Homo sapiens: one gene and its partner. The protein of the gene in region 1 purifies or fractionates together with the protein of each later gene. This does not show direct contact. Each region holds a gene or a part of one and is shown on either strand. Other genes may lie near its edges.

Region 1 (3,860 bases):
AAAAAAATAGAGGAATTGGAAGAACTAGAGGGATATCCAGAAACAGGAAGAGCCTAGAACTCTAGGATTATTGTTTTGAAAAATAGGCTAGGAGCTGGGCTTGATGATATAACATTTTATTTTTATTTAATAAGGGAAAGAGAAAATTGGGAGTTTCCAGAGATAGTAGTACTAGCCTAATATTGGGCTTCGGCGAGATGTATTTAAAGAGACGAAATAGCTGCTAAATGACGAGTTAATGGGTGCAGCACACCAGCATGGCACACGTATACATATGTAACTAACCTGCACATTGTGCACATGTAGCCTGAAACTTAAAGTATAATAATAATAAAATAAAGAGACGAAATAGCAAATGAACGTTTTGAAGTATTTGTCCTTGTAATGCAATGACATGAGCCTGTCAAGCCCACGCTAACGGGCGTGTTTGTTTGTTTGGGGGCTGCAGTGCACCTGGAGCAGAGAGGGGCCCTCCCGAGGACCGCGACGCCGAGCCTCAGCCTGGCAGCCCCGCCGCCGAATCCCTGGAGGAGCCAGATGCGGCCGCCGGCCTCAGCAGCACCAAGAAGGCTCCGCCGCCCCGCGATCCCGGCACCCCCGCTACCAAAGAAGGCGCCTGGGAGGCCATGGCCGTCGCCCCCGAGGAGCCTCCGCCCAGCGCCGGCGAGGACATCGTGGGGGACACAGCACCCCCTGACCTGTGTGATCCCGGGAGCTTAACAGGCGATGCGAGCCCGTTGTCCCAGGACGCAAAGGGGATGATCGCGGAGGGCCCGCGGGACTCGGCGTTGGCGGAAGCCCCGGAAGGGTTGAGTCCGGCTCCGCCTGCGCGGTCGGAGGAGCCCTGCGAGCAGCCACTCCTTGTTCACCCCAGCGGGGACCACGCCCGGGACGCTCAGGACCCATCCCAGAGCTTGGGCGCACCCGAGGCCGCAGAGCGGCCGCCAGCTCCTGTGCTGGACATGGCCCCGGCCGGTCACCCGGAAGGGGACGCTGAGCCTAGCCCCGGCGAGAGGGTCGAGGACGCCGCGGCGCCGAAAGCCCCAGGCCCTTCCCCAGCGAAGGAGAAAATCGGCAGCCTCAGAAAGGTGGACCGAGGCCACTACCGCAGCCGGAGAGAGCGCTCGTCCAGCGGGGAGCCCGCCAGAGAGAGCAGGAGCAAGACTGAGGGCCACCGTCACCGGCGGCGCCGCACCTGCCCCCGGGAGCGCGACCGCCAGGACCGCCACGCCCCGGAGCACCACCCCGGCCACGGCGACAGGCTCAGCCCTGGCGAGCGCCGCTCTCTGGGCAGGTGCAGTCACCACCACTCCCGACACCGGAGCGGGGTGGAGCTGGACTGGGTCAGACACCACTACACCGAGGGCGAGCGTGGCTGGGGCCGGGAGAAGTTCTACCCCGACAGGCCGCGCTGGGACAGGTGCCGGTACTACCATGACAGGTACGCCCTGTACGCTGCCCGGGACTGGAAGCCCTTCCACGGCGGCCGCGAGCACGAGCGGGCCGGGCTGCACGAGCGGCCGCACAAGGACCACAACCGGGGCCGTAGGGGCTGCGAGCCGGCCCGGGAGAGGGAGCGGCACCGCCCCAGCAGCCCCCGCGCAGGCGCGCCCCACGCCCTCGCCCCGCACCCCGACCGCTTCTCCCACGACAGAACTGCACTTGTAGCCGGAGACAACTGTAACCTCTCTGATCGGTTTCACGAACACGAAAATGGAAAGTCCCGGAAACGGAGACACGACAGTGTGGAGAACAGTGACAGTCATGTTGAAAAGAAAGCCCGGAGGAGCGAACAGAAGGATCCTCTAGAAGAGCCTAAAGCAAAGAAGCACAAAAAATCAAAGAAGAAAAAGAAATCCAAAGACAAACACCGAGACCGCGACTCCAGGTGAGCCTGGGGCCTTGTGCTCCCCGAGGCGCTGGCGCTGCTGTCAGCAGTGGGGCCTGTCCCTTCTCACTCGACTCAGGAACAAGTGACCAGCCAGGCCACAGTTGTATCCGTCTGATTTGTGTCTTTCATTTCTGTGGGTTTTGAGAGTTCACTATTTTTACAGATTTGTAAAAATTTGCCCTGCTTTGAAGCTGTATCTTTATTCTTCATGGTGTCGTTAAATGCCTAACAACCTTCTTTTTCAAAATGATAGTGCCATTTTTGGTGAATGCTTTATAACTCTTCCAGGAGTAAGCATGCAGTGTTCCATCAATGAACAATTGGGAGTCTTTGACCTTAGAATTGGTGTTAATATTCTTACTTGTCAGATGTAGTTATGTTTTCATATCTGTTATATTTTCCTGAAATTCAGTGGCTGTGAGGGAGGCAGACAACAGGAGGCACACTTTTCCTGTGCCTGCCCGCCTGCCCAGCGTAGGCATCGGAGACACCTTCGTTTCCTCGGCCTTTGTTTTTGTCTCCATTTTTCAACTTGAAATCCAATTGGGAAATTTGCTTCTGTATTTTTTAAGAGACAGGGTGTTGCTCTGTCACCCAGGCTGGAGTGCAGTGATGCCATCATAACTCACTGCAGCCTTGACCTCCTGGGCTCAAATGATATTTCTGCTTCAGCCCTCAGCCTCTGGAGTAGCCGGGACTGCAGGCGTGTGCTACCATCCTCAGCTAATTTTTTATTTTTGTAAAGACAGGATCTCACTATGCCGCGCACGCTGTTCTCAAACCCCTAGACTCAAGCGATCCCAAAGCACTGGGATCACAGGCATGAGCCACCTCACCTGGCCTGTTTTTGTATTTTTAAAAAGCTAAATTGGTTGGTGATTGTCTTGAAAATGACGTATCCATGATGAGATGGATGAGCAGGAGCAGAATTAGTAATTTTAGTTGACATCTCTTGAAACTGAAACCCTGGGAAAGATTACCAAAAGCCATATGGAAAATAGGCAGTGGTTATTGGAGGGAAAAATAATATTGCTGCCAGGTGTCTCAGGCACATGGGAGGGAAGGAGGCTTAGTATTTCCTTTCCCTTCAAGTAACTACTGGTTTCGGGAAAAGTTAGCAGAATCCTCCCTGCAGTGTTTGTCCAACAGCCTTAGTTCCTGAGAAAGCTGAAGCAGAGATGGGACTGTTCAGGATGGAGCTAAAGTTGGTGAATTTATGGCCCTGGACTGAAACAGTCATTACAGTGAAGGCAAACTTGTTAAATTTTTGAGACAGGGTCTTGCTCTGTTGCCCAGGCTGGAGTGCGGTGTTGCAGTCGTAGCTCACTGCAGCCTCAATCTCCTGGGCTCAAGTGATCCTCCTGCTTCAGCCTCCCGAGTAGCTGGGACTACAGGTGTGCGCCACCATACCTGGCCTACGTGGCTAATTAGATAAGAATTGTGCGTGTCTGCACAGTGAATGTTCTCGGTGAATGGGTGGAAAGGCCAAGCTCCAGGGTCTGCTGCTGGTGGTTTTGTGTTTTAGGGTTTTGAATTCTGGCTTTTCCTTCTGCAGGCATCAGCAGGACTCAGACCTCTCAGCAGCGTGCTCTGACGCTGACCTCCACAGACACAAAAAAAAGAAGAAGAAAAAGAAGAGACATTCAAGAAAATCAGAGGACTTTGTTAAAGATTCAGAACTGCACTTACCCAGGGTCACCAGCTTGGAGACTGTCGCCCAGTTCCGGAGAGCCCAGGGTGGCTTTCCTCTCTCTGGTGGCCCGCCTCTGGAAGGCGTCGGACCTTTCCGTGAGAAAACGAAACACTTACGGATGGAAAGCAGGGATGACAGGTGTCGTCTCTTTGAGTATGGCCAGGGTAAGAGGAGATACTTGGAATTAGGAAGATAGAAACTATTTCTTAATACATTTTCTTTGCAAAGGTGATTAACATGTAGAAAGAAAACCTCAGGTGGCATCAAAGGGCACAG
Region 2 (3,500 bases), on another chromosome or scaffold:
GAGTCAAGAATTACTCGTTGGCTTTTGCTTATACAATTGTTCCAGTACCGTTTGTTAAAACCATTTGTTTTTTTCCATTGAGTTACACTGACACCTTTGTCAAAAATCAACTGGCCATAAATATGTGGTCTACTTATTGGACTCTTCAGTTTCATTAATATCTCTCTCTCTCTCTCTCTCTATATATATATATAATATATAAATATATATTATGTATTCATATATAATATATAAATATATATTATGTATTCATATATAATATATAAATATATATTATGTATTCATATATAATATATAAATATATATTATGTATTCATATATAATATATAAATATATATTATGTATTCATATATAATATATAAATATATATTATGTATTCATATATAATATATAAATATATATTATGTATTCATATATAATATATAAATATATATTATGTATTCATATATAATATATAAATATATATTATGTATTCATATATAATATATAAATATATATTATGTATTCATATATAATATATAAATATATATTATGTATTCATATATAATATATAAATATATATTATGTATTCATATATAATATATAAATATATATTATGTATTCATATATAATATATAAATATATATTATGTATTCATATATAATATATAAATATATATTATGTATTCATATATAATATATAAATATATATTATGTATTCATATATAATATATAAATATATATTATGTATTCATATATAATATATAAATATATATTATGTATTCATATATAATATATAAATATATATTATGTATTCATATAATATATATAATGTATTTATATGTAATATATATTATGTATTTATATATTAATATATTGTACATACATAATATATAGTATATTTATATATTAATATAATTAATATTTATGACATATTATTATATATATATTTGCCAGTGGTACACTGACATTATTTTAGTAGCTTTATAGTAAGTCTTGAAATCAGTTAATCCTTCAATCAATTGTCCTTCAACTTTGTTTATCTTCTTCAATATTATTTTGGCTGTTCCAGGTCCTTTGTACTTTCATATAAACTTTAAAGTCAGCTTATCAGTTTCTGCAGAAAAATTTTTTGGTATTTTGAGTGGAATTGCATTGAATCTATAGATCAATTTAAAGAAAATCAACAATTAACACTTCTTAGTCTTCTAATCCATAAGCATAGTATATCTGTTCATTATTTGGATAGTCTTTAATTTCTCTCAACAATGTTTTATAAATTTCAGAGTACAAGTATTACAATTTTTTGTTAAATTTCTCCCTAAGTATTTAATGTTTTTGATACTGTTCTTTAGAATTTTAATTGCAGGTATTCATTGTTAGTATATACAAATACATTTGATATTTGTATATCTGCCCTGAATCCTATGACCTTATTTCATTTATTAATTCTATTAGCTTTTTATGCCTTCTGATAATAAAGATAATTTTACTCTTTTCCTTTTCAATCTGATTGCTGTTTATTTCTTTTTTACCTTATCTCTCTGGCCAGAGCCTCCAGCAAAATATTGTTCAGTGTTGAGAGCCACATATCTTTCCCTTGATCTTAGGGGGAAAGCATTTTTTGTCTGTTAGTATGGTGAATTTCATTGCTTGATTTTCTTATGTTTATACCCCACTTGGTCATGGTGTTATTTTTATATATTGCTGGATATAATTTTGTTAAATGAGGGATCTTTGTTCATGAGGGGTATTATTCTGTAGTTCTTTTTTCTTATGTATCTTTGTATGGTTTTGATGTCAGAGTAATGCCGGCCTCATAAGATTAGTTGGGAAGTGTTTGTCCCACTTCAGTATTTTAGAAGAGATGTGTAGAATTGGTATTATTTCTTCCTTGAATATTTGATAGAATTCACTTATGAAGCCATTTATTTATTTATTTATTTATTTATTTATATTATTTTTTTTTGAGACAGAGTCTCACTCTGCCACCCAGGCTGGAGTGCAGTGGCGCGATCTCGGCTCACTACAAGCTCAGCCTCCTGGGTTCACGCCATTTTCCTTCCTCAGCCTCCTGAGTAGCTGGGATTACAGGCATGTGCCACCATGCCTGGCTAAGTTTTTGTATTTTTCAGTAGAGACAGGGTTTCACCATGTTGGCCAGGCTGGTCTCGAACTCCTGATCTCAAGTGATCTGCTCACCTCTGCCTCCCAAAGTGCTGGGATTGCACGCGTGAGCCACCATGCCTGGCCAACAGTGTTCTTTTATTTTACACTTTACTCCTTTATGTTATATTGTTTTCATACATTTTGTTTTTATATAAATGCTATAATGTATTGTTTTTACTTTACATAGTCAGTTACCTTTATGAAGATTTCAAAGTCAGAAAAATATATTTTTACATTTATTATTACTAATCTTGTGCTCATTATACTTTTATGTTAATACGAATGTCCATTTTGTATTATTTACTTCTGCCTGAAGAACCTCCTTTCTGGGACTCTGGATACACAGATGTAAGACCATCTCATATGGTTCCACAGGTCACCGATGTTCTCTTCATTTTTTTCAGTCATTTTTCTGTCTTCATTTCAGATAGTTCTACTGTTTTGTCTGTACGTTCACTGATGTTTTTATTTAGTGTCTAATCTGCTGTTCTTTCCTTCTAATGTGTTTTTAAAGGCAGTATTTTCATCTCTAGAAGTTCAAGTCTTTTAAAAATTAAAAAAAAAAAAAATATATATATATATATATATATATGTATATATATCTTCTGGCCCGGCGTGGTTTATGTCTGTAATCCCAGTGGTTTAGGAGGCCAGGTTGGGATGATAGCTTGAGGCTAGGAGTTTGAGAACAACCTGGGCAACATAGGAAGACCCTATCATCTCTACAAAAGAATAAAAAAATTAGTTGGGCATGGTGATGGGCCACCTGTATTCCTAGCTACTGGGGAGGCTGAGGCAGGAGGATCACATGAACCCAGGAATTTGATTTTATAGTGAGCTGTGATTGTGCCACTGCATTCCAGCCTGTATGACAGAGTGAGACCCTGTCCCCCTAAAAAAAGTTAATAATATCTTCCATTTCTCCTCTCATTATGTTCAAGTTTTCCTCTACCTTCTTGGACATAATGAATGTATTTATAACAGATGCTTTAACATTCTTGTCTCCTAATTACATCAACTCTGTCATCTCTGAGACTGTTTCTGTTTATTACTTTTGGCATTTTTTTCTTTTACTTTTCTTTCTGTTTTGTCTTCTTGTTATCCAGTGCTTTGTCTGTGGAGAAAATGCAAGTACAAATTTTATATTCCATATGCACATGAGAAACGGGTTCAGATTTGTAAAGAGCTAGTAAAAATCTACTTGTAAATGTGTCTGATTGCTCATTGCAATCAGAGTCTCAAGATGACAACAGTATTTAACTTCTCTTCAGCCTTAATTATGTAAATAACAACCTTTGTATATTCTTTGTGTTTCTTATAATTTTGTTGGGCAGCTAGGTTTTTGTATATTCC

The links. Proteins that work in one complex are often made in the same cells at the same time.
Region 2: the proteins of USP42 (region 1) and YTHDC2 purify together in Homo sapiens (affinity purification with mass spectrometry; one large-scale study listed by BioGRID and IntAct). This does not show direct contact.

What each region holds. Positions count from the first base shown.
Region 1 is NC_000007.14:6,153,308-6,157,167, forward strand, and holds part of USP42 (ubiquitin carboxyl-terminal hydrolase 42), read left to right. Parts: exon of another isoform or gene 1-356; intron 357-448; coding exon 449-1,888; intron 1,889-3,446; coding exon 3,447-3,748; coding exon of another isoform or gene 3,749-3,780; exon of another isoform or gene 3,781-3,860. UniProt on the Homo sapiens protein: Deubiquitinating enzyme which may play an important role during spermatogenesis.
Region 2 is NC_000005.10:113,586,694-113,590,193, forward strand, and holds part of YTHDC2 (3'-5' RNA helicase YTHDC2), read left to right. Parts: intron 1-3,500. UniProt on the Homo sapiens protein: 3'-5' RNA helicase that plays a key role in the male and female germline by promoting transition from mitotic to meiotic divisions in stem cells.